Regions from separate parts of the Homo sapiens genome. Here region 1 is linked to region 2. The links come from fine-mapping of genetic effects on gene expression. A gene starts in region 2. The other region holds a variant in brackets. All regions are shown on one strand. Distances are from middle to middle. Region 1 overlaps SLC26A9 (solute carrier family 26 member 9). Region 2 holds the start of SLC26A9 (solute carrier family 26 member 9).

What was found.
Region 1: its variant is fine-mapped to the expression of SLC26A9 in pancreas (GTEx, PIP 0.95).

The regions. Positions count from the first base shown.
Region 1 is chr1:205,914,091-205,922,904 of GRCh38, reverse strand. It overlaps SLC26A9 (solute carrier family 26 member 9), which reads left to right. Exons shown (of 21, transcript NM_052934.4): 17 at 1,058-1,339; 18 at 2,675-2,729; 19 at 3,920-4,065; 20 at 5,551-5,622; 21 at 7,501-8,814. The coding sequence ends at 7,548. Among named protein-coding and RNA genes, the nearest start is that of SLC26A9-AS1, 16 kb to the left of the region's middle. RefSeq lists enhancers at 1,810-2,340, 2,341-2,872. The variant T/A (reference allele first, on the strand shown) is at 4,801.
Region 2 is chr1:205,938,564-205,947,377 of GRCh38, reverse strand. It overlaps SLC26A9 (solute carrier family 26 member 9), which reads left to right and starts at 3,922. Exons shown (of 21, transcript NM_052934.4): 1 at 3,922-4,013. All of the region lies in intron 2 of SLC26A9-AS1 (SLC26A9 and RAB7B antisense RNA 1), which reads right to left.

The DNA of each region.
Region 1 (8,814 bases), 24 kb after region 2:
TTTTAGAGATGGAATTTTGCTCTTGTCACCCAGGCTTGAGTGCAATGGCGTTATCTTGGCTCACTGCAACCTCCACCTCTGGGGTTCAAGCGATTCTCCTGCCTTAGCCTCCCAAGTCGCTGAGATTACAGGTGCCACCACACCCAGCTAATTTTTGTATTTTTAGTAGATATTGGGTTTCACCATGTTGGCCAGGCTGGTGTCAAACTCCTGACCTCAGGTGATCCACCTACCTTAGCCTTCCAAAGTGCTGGGATTACAAGCCTGAGCCACTGCGCCCAGCCTGGGCATTTTTCTTCTTGGATGAGGTGCTACCATCTCCCAGGGAAGCCACTGAACCCCCAAGGCCCTTCTCCATTTTCTGGCTAAGATAGGACATGGCCCATGGACTTTTGAACAACCCAGAGGGGGAACAGCAGTGAATTTCCTGGGGAACCCAGGCAGCCCAGGGCTAGCAAGGCTGGGGTGGCCATGGCAGTAATCCTTGTAATCCCAGCACTTTAGGAGGCCGAGATGGGAGAATCACTCTCATGAGTTCAGGAGTTCGAGACCAGCCTGCCCAACGTGGCGAAACGCTGTCTCTACTAAAAATACACAAAAATTAGCCAGGCGTGGTGGTGGGCACCTGTAATCCCAGCTACTCAGGAGGCTGAGGCACGAGAATCACTTGAACCCGGGAGGCAGAGGTTGCAGTGAGCCGAGATAGTGCCACTGCACTCCAGCCTAGGCAACAGAGGGAGACTCTGTCTCAAGAAATAAAGGAGCTCAGTGTCCCCGGAGGGGCTTTCTCCCAGAGAGAGTGGGCTTGAGGCTTCAGTGCCTCTCTTGGCTGGGTCCTCTGACTTTGTCTGGGTTGTAGGAGACCAAGTTTGCAGGCCCTGCCTAAGAAAGGGCTTTGGGAGAGGCCTCTCTGGTGGAGCTTTCAGGGTCTGTGTTCACCATCACCGAGGCGAGTTATTCCCCTACACCTACACCCTCCATGCCCCTGCTTCAGTCACAGCAAGGTCTGGCTCAGTCTGGTGGTCCCTGACTCTGCCCACTGTCCCCACCCTTCCAGACTGTCTCCCTGCAGGAGCTGCAGCAGGACTTTGAGAATGCGCCCCCCACCGACCCCAACAACAACCAGACCCCGGCTAACGGCACCAGCGTGTCCTATATCACCTTCAGCCCTGACAGCTCCTCACCTGCCCAGAGTGAGCCACCAGCCTCCGCTGAGGCCCCCGGCGAGCCCAGTGACATGCTGGCCAGCGTCCCACCCTTCGTCACCTTCCACACCCTCATCCTGGACATGAGTGGAGTCAGCTTCGTGGACTTGATGGGCATCAAGGCCCTGGCCAAGGTGAGGCCCTCGGGAACAGCAAGCACCACCCACTCCACCCCCTCCGCTCTGCTCTCCACATTCCCTTTCCTGGGAGCCCTCATTTCAGGAAGCTGAGGGAGGAAGCTCACTGGGGAGACTAACAGCTCCTAGGAATCCCTCCTTTCCCCAGACGCCACCAGGTTGAGACATTCTCCACAGAGCAGGCCCAGACGGCCCATGACAATGAGTGGCGGGACAAGTCTACCAGAGTTTCAGGCCCCTGTGCTCCCAACACCCCCAGCAGTGGCCATCCCAAGTCCCTCTCAGCCATCAGGAACCCACCCAGGTTCTCTGAGGAGGGTCCGGTTTGGCTCCTGGTTCATGATCTGCTGCCCTTGTCCCTCATTCACCGGCCACCCTAGGACAGGAGAAGGAATAATACCAGTGCCCCACACCATCAGGCCAAACAGAGAGCCCACGGGACACCTTGAATGAATGTATCCATCTGATAACTTTCCAGCAGCCACCGCCAATGGCGGGAGTCAGCAAACCTCAGAGCTGGCTCAGATAGAGGCAAGCCAGGGGAACAATGGGCACAGAGAGTGTTCGGACTGCCTTCACCATCAACCAGGCGCAGGGCAGGCCCCATACCCAGCCTTGGGCCTCAGCCGGCTTCCTTAGCCAGGATCTGGAGTCCAGGCCAGCCTTGGCTGAAGCTCTAGACTCCCTGAGCCTCCATCCTCCCCTGCAGCTTCTGTCTGAAGCCACAAAGAAGTCTGAGAATCTAAGCTACTGAAAGAAAAGATCAGCCGGGCGTGGTGGCTCACTCCTGTAATCCCAGCACTTTGGGAGGCCAAGGCAGGTGGATCACAAGGTCAGGAGTTCAAGACCAGCCTGGCCAACATGGTGAAACCCCGCCTCTACTAAAAATACAAAAATTAGCCAGGTGTGGTGACGGGCCCCTGTAGTCCCAGCTACTCGGTAGGCTGAGGCAGAGAATTGCTTGAACCCAGGAGGCGGAGGTTGCAGCGAGCCAAGATCACGCCACTGCACTCCAGCCTGGGCAACAGAGTGAAACTCCATCTCAAAAGAAAAAAAAAGAAAATATCTAGCCCCACAAGAAGGGGCCATGGTGACTTTAAGTGCCCGCCACGTTGGCAAAAGTCCATTTCCGCTCCACTTCCCAGAGAAACCGTCAGCCAACACTCCAGGGAGAAGTGGTGTGCTTTGCTGCTATTTTTGTCTTTGGCTGCTGGGCTCTCAGGGTTGCTTATTTGTTTGGCTTCCCCTCTGAAGTACGTTTTGTGAATCACTTTTGAGACCCACTCAGAACATTCCTTTCCTTTTGCCTCCCTACCCCAACAACACTTCTAGCTGAGCTCCACCTATGGGAAGATCGGCGTGAAGGTCTTCTTGGTGAACATCCATGGTAAGAGAAAGAGGACATTTAGGGACTGAAAGACTGGCAAGGAGTGTGGGGTAGGAACAGGTTGGTGGGGTCTGAATAGTGAGGAGGTTGGAAACGAGAGCACCCAGCTATCCCCCACAAGCTGCTGCCTGCTCATAAAAGCTTCAGGTACAAGTCCAAAGAGACTGGTCAGATTGCATAAACATCCTAGGGGCCTTAGTGACAGAGTGGGGGTGAGGAGGTCATGGAGTTACAGAAGGACAGCTAGGATTCTAATCTACCCCATAACTAATTTGCCACGTATCCTTGGCCGAGTCACTTTATCTCTCAAGGGATCTATTTCTACCTATGTAAAACGAGAGGGTTGACTAGATGGATTTGGGGATCCTCTCCCAATCAGAAACTCTGTGAATCGATATAGGCATAGAGCACACGGTACCCTAATTCCCCAGGGAACATATAAATATGCAGTTTTGTAGGCATACAGCCTCCAAAGGGTGCATATACACAGCCTCAAGGACGTGGCCACAGGGCAGCAGACATTTACATGACTAGCATGTACGCAAAGTGCAGAGATGTGGGAGCAAGTGCACACAGACACACAGGAGAATGTGAAGGGGCACATACACACACACCCAGCTCCCTGCACTGGGTCAGACCCCCTCCAGCAGGGCTGCAGTTCCCAAGCTCCGCATGGCCACGTTCGGGGAGAGAATCTGCAGTGGCAATGACCTGCTATGATATGTTCTGGAGTTAGAAGCAGTGGATTCTCCCCAACCTCACTGGACACCCCCTCAGGAAACCATCTCTAGGATTAAGAGTAATCCACACAAACTTCCAATGCCACACATTGGAAGTTGCTGGAAAGGTCTGGGAAAACAAGAGGAAGGATGGGTCCTTGGGGGATAGAACTGGCAGCGGCCTCTTCAAGGATGGCTTAGGCTTTTCCACTCGAATCACCACAAAGTACTGACTCCCTAAATCAAACTGCTTCCTTCTGCTCTGGGTTGAAACTTCAGCATCCTCAAGTTCATGTTGCCCTCTGCCGTCCAAAACTGATATTGCACTGCCAATGCCATGGCCCTCAGATACAGCAAGAGCTGGGACCTCAGGCCTCTCCCATCCCTGCTCTGGTCTCACTATCTTCCCCACCCCCAGCTCCAATCCACAATGGCTGTTATCTTTCTGAAGGTGATCTTTTCTCCTTCTAGCCCAGGTGTACAATGACATTAGCCATGGAGGCGTCTTTGAGGATGGGAGTCTAGAATGCAAGCACGTCTTTCCCAGCATACATGACGCAGTCCTCTTTGCCCAGGCAAATGCTAGAGACGTGACCCCAGGACACAACTTCCAAGGGGTAAGGTTCTTGCACCTGGGGAATCCTAGGCTCCAAGGCACTGAAATAGCAGGACCAAGAGGCATTATTAGAAAGAACACAGGAGAAGGTTTAAGTTCCAATATCAAGTCTGCCATTTCAGTTTTCTGAATCTGTTTCCTTATCTATAGAATGAGCACCATCAACTAACATTACCTACCTCTCTGCATTTTTCTTTTATTTTGTTTTAGGGTTAAATGATAATTACATCTTTTGTGTCACTTGAAAGCACTTTGTGTATTGTAAAAATTCTTTATCAATATAAGTTTTCTGGTTGCACAAACACCCAAAGCATAGTAGAGCAGGCCCACTCTGCTGGCATCGTTCCCTGCCTCCTCCTCATCTCTTTCTAAAGGGGGCTTTCGGGAAGGGAGGGGAGGGGAGTAAGCCTACCCATTTTAACTTACCGGAGCTTAGAGATTTCAGGCTGGTGAGGGATAAAGAGATTGGGTCTGAGTTTTGTCTCAGCTTTTTGACATTTAATTTACTAGCTCAGTAAGTTACAAATGGGATACAAATAACACCATCTAAAACTCCAGAAGACTGGGGAGTCAGAAAAAGCCTACCTCCTTGGGGTCCCTGCCCAGATCCCCAGTCATCTCTAGCCCTCAGGGTCCCCTCCCAGCTCAGCTCCTGCCCTTGGCCTCCCAAGACTCTTGTTGTGCCCCAGCCCTGGGTAAAAACCTCCCCTGCCCTCTGTGGGTCATAAGAAAGGCT[T/A]TTCTGGCCCTAGAGCAATGATTTGCTCTTTGCCTTAAGAGACTGATGAAGGTGAAACCATCTGTTCTAAGTGCTGAAAGACTGCCCAGGAACACACAGGGCGCTGGCTCCTGCCCTCCATGCCTAGAGGGAAACCCTGGGGAAACAACGGGCTTTCCTGCTTCGTGAATTTGTCCGCAGAGCAAAGAGGGAGATTCTGGAGGAAGCTGCATTAGTTGTTAGTGCCCTAATCATGTTCAGCTACTCTAGTTGGTATGTATACTTGATTAGTCATAGACTTATAAATAATTTATATTTTATATAATATATACTTACATATTATAGACCATTCACAGATACAAATCACACACATAAACACACACCTTTTCAACAGCATTGTGAGGGACAAAGCAGGCAAAGTGAGGCTGGTTATCAGACTTGAACAGATTAGAAAATATATTCCCAGGAGGACAGGAATTCCCCAAGGTCAGGCAGCTAGCCAATAGTTTTTCTAAGCTGAGTAAAACCTTCCCTGCCTCTAACGGCCCACAAAGGAGGGAAGACCGCGATACACACCTGTCTGGTATAAGGGGGAAGACCACAGCCGTGCTGTTTTTGTGAGGCAGGTAAGGGAAGGGGCAAGAGGATAAGTCATGTGTCAGGAAGCAGCGTCCAACCAGAGCCGGCCACCTGTCCCTTTTCCTGCCACCATGCACCAACTTTGCTGTTCAGTCACTGAAGCTCATTCTGCACTGGCTTCCTCCCTTCCAGGCTCCAGGGGATGCTGAGCTCTCCTTGTACGACTCAGAGGAGGACATTCGCAGCTACTGGGACTTAGAGCAGGTGAGCTGAGGGAAGGGGCTGTGAGGGTGGGAGCAGGGCGAAGAGGGGAAGGATGGGGTCGCTGTCAAATACAAGGCGTTCACTCAGCTGTCTCACCTCCAGCCCAGAGCAGTCACATTCAAGGCCACAAAGATTTGTGGTCATCTTTGTTTTTTTTCTTTTCCTTTTCTTTTTTTTTTTTTTTTAATTTGAGACAAAGTCTCACTCTATCACCCAGACTGGAATGCAGTGGCATGATCTCAGCTCACTGCAACCTCTGCCTCCCGGGTTCCAGAGGTTCTCCTGCCTCAGCCTCCCGAGTAGCTGGGACTTCAGGCCTGCGCCCAGCTAATTTTTGTATTTTTAGTAGAGACAGCTTTTCACCATGTTGGCTGGGCTGGTCTCGAACTTCCGATCTCAAGCAATCTGCCTGCCTCGGTCTCCTAAGTGCCTGGATTACAGGCATAAGCCACGATGCCTGGCCTTTGTTTTCATTCTTCTCACTCCCTGAAAGTTATCGTGGGGAGAGGGTGAGTCACTGGACCAAGTCCTAGAGAACCAGTATCTATTCTTATTCTCCAACACATCACCCACGTGACCCTGAGCAAGCCACATACACCCTGGGCCCTAGTTTTTATCATCTGTGAAATTAGGGGAAACATAGGTAATACCTGTCCCATCCACCACACAAGATTGGCAGGGCAGTCACTTGTTCTTTCATTAATTCAGCAGGTATTTATGGCGTACCTACTGTTTGCCTGACACAGTTCAGGATGGGCACATAGCAGTGAGCAAAACAAAGGCCTCTGCCTTTTAGAAACTTACGTTATGGTAGAATAGATGGATTCTGGGTCTACAAATGAATTATTATTGCATGTGGACAAGCCTTAAGAACTAAAAAATATGTGGCTGGGTGCAATGGTTCACACCTGTAATCCCAGCACTTTGGGAGGCTGAGGTGGGCGGACCACCTGAGGTCAGGAGTTTGAGACCAGCCTGGCCAACATGGCGAAACCCCGTCTCTACTAAAAGCACAAAAATTAGCCAGGCGTAGTGGTGCATGCCTGTAGTCCCAGCTACTCGGAAGTCTGAGGCATGAGAATCACTTGAACCTGGGAGGCAGATGTTGCAGTGAGCCGAGATCGTGCCACTGCACTCCAGCTTGGGTGACAGAGCTAGACTGTCTCAAAAACAAACAAAACAAAACCTAAAAGATATGTGGATATGAGGGATCACCATCCCCATAGGGCCCCTGGATTAACACCACCCCACCAATGCCCTGAATTAAAAGAAACCAGATGACTAGGTTTGGAGAAATCTGGCTTTGGGTCTATGAGAAGTAGTGTCTCTCTTTGTGCCTCTTCCCATTCTTTTTGACATTGAGCTCCATGGTGCTCTGAATCCGTCTCTCACAGTGCTGATGGCAGGTGGGACAGATTAGAAAATAGAGCTGGAGCCACAGAGATTTGGCAGACTGATTTCGGTGCCCTCTTGGAATCTCCAGCACATTCCAAAAAGCCTGGATAGGACCAAAATAGCTTATCAACGTGAGAAAGGACTTCAGAGCTTGTCTACTGCCAACCCTCATTTTACCCAATGAGGAAAGTGAAGCTATTAGGGGGCGAGGGACACGTGGAAGGTCACACAGCACACAGGAGGTGATTCACATGTAGATTTCAGCACCTGCTCCTGCCACGCTGGACTGGTTCACCTCCTAGGCTGACCCTGCCTCTCCCCTGTTCACACACACTCTCGCACACACACACACACACACACACACACACAGGTGCTTTGTTCTGGCCAGGGGTTCCTAGGGTCACCTCTTGGTTGCAGCCACTGTGACCCCAACTGGTCTAACCTCTCTCTTCCCCTCCCACTTCCTTCCTGTGGTTCCTGCAGGAGATGTTCGGGAGCATGTTTCACGCAGAGACCCTGACCGCCCTGTGAGGGCTCAGCCAGTCCTCATGCTGCCTACAGAGTGCCTGGCACTTGGGACTTCCATAAAGGATGAGCCTGGGGTCACAGGGGGTGTCGGGCGGAGGAAAGTGCATCCCCCAGAGCTTGGGTTCCTCTCTCCTCTCCCCCTCTCTCCTCCCTTCCTTCCCTCCCCGCATCTCCAGAGAGAGCCTCTCAGCAGCAGGGGGGTGCTACCCTTACAGGAGTGAGAGTCTGGTGAGCCCACTCTTCACCCGTCAGGCCCTGGCCGCAATGGACAAGCCTCCTGCTCACTCCACCCCACCCACCTCTGCCCTGTCCTTGGCAGCTGAAGGACACCTTGACTTCCAGCTTTTACGAGTGAGCCAAAAACAGAAGGACAAGTACAACTGTGCTGGCCTGCTGTACAAGCTTCAAAAAGTGTCCCAGAGCCCACACGGCTCGGTGTCAGATGGTGTCAGGCTGTCACGGACATAGGGATAAACTTGGTTAGGACTCTGGCTTGCCTTCCCCAGCTGCCTCAACTCTGTCTCTGGCAGCTCTGCACCCAGGGACCATGTGCTCTCCACACCCAGGAGTCTAGGCCTTGGTAACTATGCGCCCCCCCTCCATCATCCCCAAGGCTGCCCAAACCACCACTGCTGTCAGCAAGCACATCAGACTCTAGCCTGGACAGTGGCCAGGACCGTCGAGACCACCAGAGCTACCTCCCCGGGGACAGCCCACTAAGGTTCTGCCTCAGCCTCCTGAAACATCACTGCCCTCAGAGGCTGCTCCCTTCCCCTGGAGGCTGGCTAGAAACCCCAAAGAGGGGGATGGGTAGCTGGCAGAATCATCTGGCATCCTAGTAATAGATACCAGTTATTCTGCACAAAACTTTTGGGAATTCCTCTTTGCACCCAGAGACTCAGAGGGGAAGAGGGTGCTAGTACCAACACAGGGAAAACGGATGGGACCTGGGCCCAGACAGTCCCCCTTGACCCCAGGGCCCATCAGGGAAATGCCTCCCTTTGGTAAATCTGCCTTATCCTTCTTTACCTGGCAAAGAGCCAATCATGTTAACTCTTCCTTATCAGCCTGTGGCCCAGAGACACAATGGGGTCCTTCTGTAGGCAAAGGTGGAAGTCCTCCAGGGATCCGCTACATCCCCTAACTGCATGCAGATGTGGAAAGGGGCTGATCCAGATTGGGTCTTCCTGCACAGGAAGACTCTTTAACACCCTTAGGACCTCAGGCCATCTTCTCCTATGAAGATGAAAATAGGGGTTAAGTTTTCCA
Region 2 (8,814 bases):
ACTTGAGCCCCTGGGCTTCCCAGGGGAGAGAAGTGAGGATTCGCTTCTCCTTGGGTACCTCTGCAGTCCCACCAGTCCTCAAGCACTCATGAAACTGGCAGCCGCGCAGGGCCAGGCCAGATCCTGCCACTGCAGGGCAGGGTGGTGAAGACTTTGCTGTCTTTAGCCTTAAGGTATTTGCTTAAGTCATTGGGCTGCTCTGCCCAAAACATGTTTCTGCCCACACCCTTGGCACCCACACAGGGCACACGTGCAAGAAGCCAGCAGGTGCAGATAAGACCAGAGGCTCAAGGATAGACAGAGGTGGCAGAATTTGTCTCCTTTTTGCAGGTCTAGCCTGAGTTTGCTCATCTGAAAAATAGCTGTTTCTTAGCAAGATCAGCTCAGAGGTGAGATGTGTCAGGAGGGAACCTTAGGAATACTTTGGGTTTATCTGCATAACTCAGTGTTACGTGTGACTGTTCAGTGTGACTGTGTGTGTGTGTGGTCGCAAGCTTTGGATCACAGGGGAACACAGGGATGGGCTTTAAGGCAGAGAATCTTGGGTGCGTTCAGAAGTCAAAGAGGACTTGGGAACAAGCTGGAAATCCCTTCTAGAAACAGTGCTTTCAGGGGCAGCCGCCATCCTACTTCTTCCTGGGAGTCCTTCCCCACCTGGGGTCTATAGCTCAGGTGTCCAGGCTACAGCTGTGACTGAGCTTCCTGCCCTCCTCTTGTTGGAAGACTTCCCGGCTCCTTCTCTGTCCGCTGGAGGGCTGATCTGGGCACCTCTCCCCTGTACTCCCATAGCACCCTATGTTCCATGCTACAATGGTTTCTTCGCCTTCCTGTCTTCCTCACCAGATTGTGAGATATTTTCATGACAGAGATTGTGTCTGATTTATTTCATTTTCCCCAGGACAGGATCCTGGCACTTGATAAGGGGTTTCCAGTGAATGAATAAATGAATGAATGAATGCAGCATCCCACCCTAGGGCTGGGGGTGAAGTAGGTTGCTTCCGAAGGATTCTCTCTCCTGCTCCAGAGAGAGGCATAGGGTTGCTGTTCATCGCTTTCATCATGAAACACAAATGATTTAGCAAAACTCTAGGCTGAGCTGCTATGGCTGTTAATGTGTCCTTGGCTCCTTTCTCTGTTTCTGAGTCTTTGTCTCCATCATTTTTCTCTGTGTTTCTATTTCTGTCACCTATCTCTCCATATCTTTGTGTTCCCTCCACCAACCCTAAATTTGTCCACACTTTAATTCTACCCAAGATACCCCTAAGATGCCTTTTCAGCCATCGGGGCACTCCCCCTTCTGTCTTCTGTTTCCCTAGCCTCTGATCTGGTTTCCTCCTTCCTGGGCCTCCCACCAATGACCAGCCCCAGATTCTGAGGCCCCTGTCCATCTTCCTTGGTGACTTCAGAGGAATCTCTGGGTTCGTCTATCCCTACTGCCCCTATAATGCAAGGGCTACCTGCCCAGAATTTTGCTGAGACAGTAGAAAAGTTTTGAGGAGGACAAACAACAAGTTTCCAATTCCAGCATGTATCCTGGAGGCCCCAGACGTCTTCATCCAGGTTACATTAGGAGTTATACCAGCAAGGGAGCCTAATGGTATCTAAAAGGTATGGTCTTTTGTAGGATCTCATCCTTAGCTTCGCAGGCTCAAAGGTTAAGATGATATCGTAGACTAAGCAGAGGATTTGAAGCCATTTTAGCCAAGTTAGATTCCTGCCTCTTCCATTCAGATCTTTGTGATCTTGGATAAGTGATTTCACTTCAGTCAACTCAGTTTTCTCATCAAAAAATGACAGTAACATGCCTATATGTTTGGTATAAGAATTAAACCAAATCACCTGTGGGAAAACCAAGTGTTACTGTGGAAACTAGGTCAGACTCAGGGGATACTAACTCACATTAATAAAACTCACACTGGACCAATGGGTAGCCCAGAATGTCCATGGGTCATTTAAAAGAGAAGCATGCCTGCAAAAGCAGCCCTAGTCGCTCCAACCAGCTGGGCAGTGCATTCTCTGCCCTAAAGGACATACAACCAGAAGATTCCCTGGTGGACATGGTGTCTCAGCAAGGGGACTTAGTTGTTTGATCTTGATAGCCACTGTCACCTGGCTATCGGAAGAACATAATGACTCATCTGCTTTCTAGGAATTTCCTGGGCAAAGTTTAGAACAGGTCAGGCTACCCATGACACTGGACAATACTGAAGATGCATGGACAAATTCTCGCCCTCTGGCTTTGCTTTGTTTAAAGACTCTATCATACAATTGTTCATTCATTCCTCAAATCTATATTGAGCTCCTCCTAAGTGCCGGGCACTGGGCTAGGTGGGTAGGGATACAAAAGAGGCACTGCCCCCTTGCCCTCCTCAGGGAGTTCACGGTGTTTGCAGAAAGACTGACAATTCCATACATAATTACCATTAATTGTGGTCAGTGTTATGAGAGTGAAGCAGAGGAAGCCAGAGGAACGAATGTGCAACATGTCAGCTAAGTCCACATAGGGGTCTGGGGAAGGGCTCCCCGAGGCAGTGTCCATGCACACATCCTTCCCTCAGCCAGGTGTCAGGGCACACTTGGGTCACTTGAATTCTGGCTCTCTTCAGCCAGTTGTCTGGCTACACCCTGACAACTCTGAGTGACCTCGGGTGTTTCCCTAGTCCCCACAAGCAATGCATCTACAAACTATCCCTTGGGTTGGGCTTGCAGACAATTCACTCTTTCATTCATTTAACAAATATTTATTGAGTCCCTATTAAGTACTGAAGCTAGCTCATTTCACCATGGGGAACTTTCGCCCCAACTTCCAGAGGTGCCTTACTGAAGCCCCCTGCACTGATTCCAGCCCACTTCAGAGCCTCTGGTTTCTTTTGGAGAGATGGGAGGACAGTTGAGGACGAGGACAGTGCAGCACTTGATGTCTCAAAGAATGGGCACCTGGTGTCGGGTAGTGACTCTCCCTCCCAGGAAGTAAATTAAGAAACTCCCCTACCCACCCTCCCAGCCCCTGTCCACAATTGCTTTCTGAGGTCCTTCCGTAGCACTCAATGGGCCTGGGATGGGCAGCTCTGCTGGCAGCAGCCGGAGCAGTGCCATGACCCAGGGAGACATTAATTCCTAGAAGCGGCAGAGGGCTGTGACTGGAGATTTGCTAGCCTTCAGGTCGCCTCTCATATAATTGTTCTAAGTCCAGTTTCTTGAGCTCTTTTATCAGATTCTAAACCCCTGTGTTCTCTTTGCACACTACCTGAGGGGCCAGGAATAATTTCCCCCATTGCACTGATGGATAGACCAAGGCACAGAGCTCACAAGCAACTTAACATTGGGGACAGAACTGGGAACCAGGTCTCCACCACAAACCAAAACCGCCTAAAGGCTCCCAGGGCCTCCCAGACATGGTTCTTCCCCTTCCTCAGGGGTGTTCAGAGGACTACTGTCTTCCCACCCCCTAGATCTCCAATCTTCAAAGCAAGCATCCCCAAGAGCACACCCCTCAGGTGGCCTCAATAGCTCCCATTGTCCAAGAGGCTCTTTGGCCTGACCCCCAGCCCCATAAGCAGCAGGACAGCAAGCTCAGAGGAGCTTGTCCTGCCTTGTCCCCCTCCTCTGCCTCGTCCCCCTCCTCCAGGGCCGCCTTGGGGGAGCCGGTGGGGCAGGAGCCCCGCTGAATGTGACCTATTGTCTTCGGGGTGGATTTAGGAAGTGCCAAGCTCCCATCACACAGCCCTGCTCCCCAGGTAAAACAAAAAAAGGGCTGTTCATTTGGGACCTTTTCCCCCTTATCTCCTTTTCCTATCTCCTCAGGCTTAGCTATGGTGTAGTGTTCAAAACCACTTCCCCTCTGAGCCAATCAGAAGCCGGGGCTCACCCCGTGGCCCTGAGGAAAAGTTATTTATAAACGCCTCCCTGGATTATTTGAGCAGAGCCCTTTCACACACCTCAGGAACACCTTTCGGCTGCCCGCTCCCCAGACACACCTGCAGCCCTGCCCAGCCGGCTTTGCTCACCCACTGGTAAGCCCCACCCAGCCCAGCCCACCCCACTGGGCTGGGGTCATCCCTGCAAGAGGGCAGTCACCAGGGGTACCGAGAGGAGGGATGACAGGAACCAACTGCCAAGCTGAGCACAAGTAGGAAGGACACTCTGGCCCCTGGAGTCTGAGAGCAGCCTCCCAGCCCTTCCCCTCTGAGGAGCCCTTTGGGTCTTCACGTCTATGTAAGGACCTGGGCTGCAAGGCTGGGCTTGACTGAGGGAGCAAGTAGGGTGAGGGTGTGGTGGTCGCCAGACCCCGAAACAGAGCGAGGCAAAGGCCTCCGAGGGAAAGGAAAATGTTAGACCTTCCTCCGCGACAGCCTTTGAAGCTGTGGGCTGCTCCTCTCCCTTTCTTTTCAAGTCTTGGAGGGAAAAGCTCTTAATGCTTGACTCACCAGCCTACTCTGCATGGCTGTCTCCCCCTCCTTCTACCGCCCAGACATCCTCCTTCACTCATGTACTTCTCCACCAGCTCGGGGAACTTAGCATGGACTACACAGAATCCCATGTGTCCCCATTAGTCCTGAGAAGTTGGAAGAGGTGGAGGGGGAGGAAACTGAGGAGTGGGAGAGGGTGAGCAAGGGACCAGCTCCATCAGGCAGGCGGGTGGGCGGTAGCTGGACCTGGGACGCCCGACTCAATGGTGAATGCTTCAACACAGAAGGGCTTGGGCCAGGACAGTGGATGGGCAGCCAGCTCTCCAGGCTCTCAGCCTCCAAACCCCTCATCCTGCAGCTCCAAGGGGTTCCAAGCCACTCTCAGGCAGTGCCCCCATTCCTCAAAACCAGCCCAGAGGGTCCCCAGCTGAGACCTAACAAAGCTTCTATTATTCCAGCATCAACTGCCCCCTTACACTTGGCCCCACGGGTCTGAGGACCAGAAGACCCTGGAGTGACGCAGCCCCCCAAGTGGGCAGACTGAGAGAGGGCTTTCCCCCTGAGTGGCTTCACTCATGCAGATGACCCTTTCTCAGAACCCCACAGTCCTCCCCCACCTCCCTCATCCTGGCCCTGGCATCCAGAACCTGGCAAGACCCTGCTTGGGCAGCATGGAGACCAGCATGGCCAAGAGCACCTCCACTGCCAGGAAGGCCTTCCCAGGCACTTCCCAGAGCTAGCCACCTGCTCTCTGAGTCTCATTTGTATAAACCCTGGGGCAGAGACGGACTCCTCTTTATCTTTTAATGCCCAGAGTCTTCCGGAGATTGGCATATACCCAGTATTCAAGAGTGCCTCTTAAACCGTACTAAACAGCCAGACTGACCCCCGTGAACTTGCTGGGGGAATCGAGGACCAGCTCAACACTGACCAAGCTTTGGGGGCTGTGGGGTCACTACTTGGAAGATGGAAGGGGCAGAGCCACCCCTTCAAGGGGAGTTGATCTTCACTGGATGCCTCTCTGGGCTTTCGCCTGGATTTCTGGGACCAGAGCAGCTGGGCCCTTCACTGGTCTCCTTGCCCAGGCCCTGCTTCCAAGTGAAAGCAACCCCAGTCTCCTTAAAGACTTCTAGGAATTTAACCTCAAGTGCCCATTCCAGGGAGCCCATGACCTTGTCAGTCTTGCTGTTAGGAAGTGATTCTCAAAGTCTAGCCTTGGTCCCTCTTTCTGGAGCCTATTTCCTCAGCCCAGCACCCATTCCCAGCAGGGAAAGTGCAGAGGAGGGAGAGTTCGCCTGGAGATAAGGAGTGGGGATTTGGGGGGTGGTATCAGTGAATCTCTCTCCTACACGGGATGCAGTCTCTAAGACACCTTAGGGACATCTCATCCTCCCCTACACTGAGGAGGAAATTAGGCTGGGGTGAGGAGTAGGGAGAGATTTGCCCTGGAAACACAGGGACAGTAGAAGGAAAAGGAGTGTTTAAAAATGCCTTGGGGGGCTGGGCGCAGTGGCTCAGCCTGTAATCTCAGCACTTTGGGAGGCCAAGGAGGGCAGATCACTTGAGGTCAGGAGTTCGAGACCAGGCTGGCCAACATGGCGAAACCCCGTCTCTACTAAAAATATAAAAAATATTAGCTGGGTGTCATGGCGCGCACCAGTAATCCCAGCTCCTAGGGAGGCTGAGGCAGGAGAATTGCTTGAACCCAGGAAGTGCACCCTGTGGTGAGCCAAGATCGTGCCACTGCACTCCAGCCTGGGTGACAGAGGGAGACTCCACCTCAAAAAACAAAAACAAAAAAACAAAACAAACAAACAAAAAAGCCTTAGGGGTGCAGAGGCCTCTACATCCTTCCTCCTCCTGCCATGGATGTGGTCTCCCACTGAGACCCCAGCCAGCTTGTCTGTCCCAGCTCACATTCACACCTGGGTCACTCAGAGGCTGCTCTTACCCTGTGGCCCCCACCCTGGATGAGGCAGGGAGGCAACCAGCAGCTAGAGCAAAGGGGAAACCTCAAGGTGACCTTTCCTCTTCCCAGAACACAGCAACCGGCTGGCTAGGAACCAGTGATAAGGATGCCAGGGTGGGTTGGCCCAGCCGGGGCTGTTCCCGTACCTGGCACACATGCGTCAAAAACCCCCTCCCTCACATGCACACCCCCGACAGGACTGAGGGAGGAAGTCAGCCTGGCCCACAGTGACAGGATCACCTCCAGATCCAACCAAAACCCACAAATGGACCCCTCACAGTCCTGCTCTGCAGATGTTCTACCCTCTTCTGACAAGATTTTCTGCTGTTCCTCTCATCAAGTCCTGGGAAAATTTGGAGGGGTTAAGGCATGGGGCAGCAGGTATAGGGGCAGATGGAAAAAGGCAAGCCAAAAAAAGGCAGAGTGCCCACTAGAGATGGCAGAGCAAGAAAGAGGCTCCTCTGGAGTCATAGCAGTAATGATGATAGTTGGAGTTTATTGCATGCTTCCCATGGCCAGGTGCCGTTCCGAGCCTTTCAGTGCATCCACTCGGGCACTGTCTCTGCCTGAGCCCATCTCTGCCCAAGCCCATCTCTGCCTACAATATTTGGATGGTGTTGACAGAGACCTGGTTAGAAATGTGACTGGGAGAAGGTACCAGGGGCGTGCTTTGGCATGAGCTCATTGGAGGAGAAATCCTGGAGAATCTCAAGAGGGAATCTGCTCCAGCCTGTGCCCTCCCTGCAGGGTCTATTTTCTCTTTGCTTCCCCTCTCCCAGCTACTCCGGCTCGCACGACCCCTGCATCCCCTCTGCTCCAGATTTGACCCACTCTCCTGCCAGTGCATGGGAGTGGCCCATGCACCCACATCTCCTGCCCTCTGCTCTCCTGGCTCACCCCCTACTCCCCTTAAACCCTACAGACCCCCTCTAAGTCCCTCCAGCTCTTTAGGACCTGCCCCCCTTCCCTGCACAGTGGAGGAGGGGCAGGGTCACCCTTTTGTTTCTCAGTATTATCACATGGCACCTGCTATTTATCCCTGGCCCGGTAGGGGGATGGAAGGCAGTGGAGGGGTGGTGGGGGCAGGGCTTGTAGATACACGCCTCTGGCAATAGGGCACTTGACTTTTTTTTCCAGCGATGCTGACATCACTTATCATGGCTGTTTGTTTGTTTAACTGGGGATCAGATTGTTATGTTCCCTATACCTGGCTCTCTTTCTTGCTCCCTCTTCCACTTTCCTGCCCCTAATGTAGCATCTGGCATCGTGAGACACCCTCTCTGAGGATTCCCTGGGACTCCCATCCCTGCTAGTTCTCTGAGACTCCTCCTCCCCACCATGCCACCCACCCTTTTCCACCACTCCCATCCCCCTTCCCTCCACCTCTTGCCCTCACCTGAAGGGCTGGCTGGGGATGAAGTACCCTTGTCTTCTACGTCCCACCCCACCTCAACCCCTATTCTTGGAATTAGGAAGTATGTTGAGGGCGCCTTCTCAGCAGGAGCTGGGGCAGTTCCTGTGGCTGCAGATTTGCAACTCTGGCCATCATATTCTTGGGAAACCAAGGCCAGGAGGGAACCAGAGCCCTCAAGAGGAGTAACAGAACCCAGAGGTCCTGTCCCATCAGCTGGGGTGGCAAGGTCACCAGGGTGGTCAGAAAGGGGCATTCTGAGTGCCACTCAGGGGAAAACATTGTCCTGAGATCAGCTTTGTCCCTGGAAGGTCTGAAGCCCCTTCGAATAGGAACACTGGAGTTAAATCAAGTGCAGTTTCTTTATCTGCAAAATGAGACAATTGGACAAATGTGGTCCTCAAGTTCTCTTCTACACAAAACTTTCTGACTCTGACTGGCTGCTGGGTTCTCCTCTTTATGCAAACTCAGGATTGTGAAAGCTCCCAGAGCCTTCTCCCCTTCAGCATCCTATTCCTGGGATGGGCAGATGGCATGGGAAAGAGACAGATTTGGTATTCCAGTAAAGCAAGGGAGGCTTTTCCTCTGTTAGCCTGTGTCAGAGGGGACTCCCTAGTATCTGGTGCTCCATCTGTCAGTGAGTCTGCCCAGAGGGGCAGAGCTGGTCCTGAGTCACCTACCTGTTGCTCTCTGAAGGACTTCCACCACCCCTGCCGCTTTCCTCCCAAAGAAAAATGGCCAAAGCCAACACTAGTGTACAGGCTGGAGGGGTGCACATGGAGATCCTGGGAGAAAGAGAAATCCTTCAGGGTTTCAAGGTGGTCAGGAAAGGCTTCATAGGCAAGAAGGAGAAGGGAAAAGAGTGGGAGAGGAAGGAGAGGGTTGGAGGAGGAACTTCAACAGGTCTTAAGGATGGGCAGATCTAGAAAGGCAGAAATGAGTCAGGGCACCTCAGGTAAGGAGGAAAGTGGGAACAGAGACTCAGGCTTGTTTGGTGGGTGCAGAACAGACCAGCCCAGATGGTG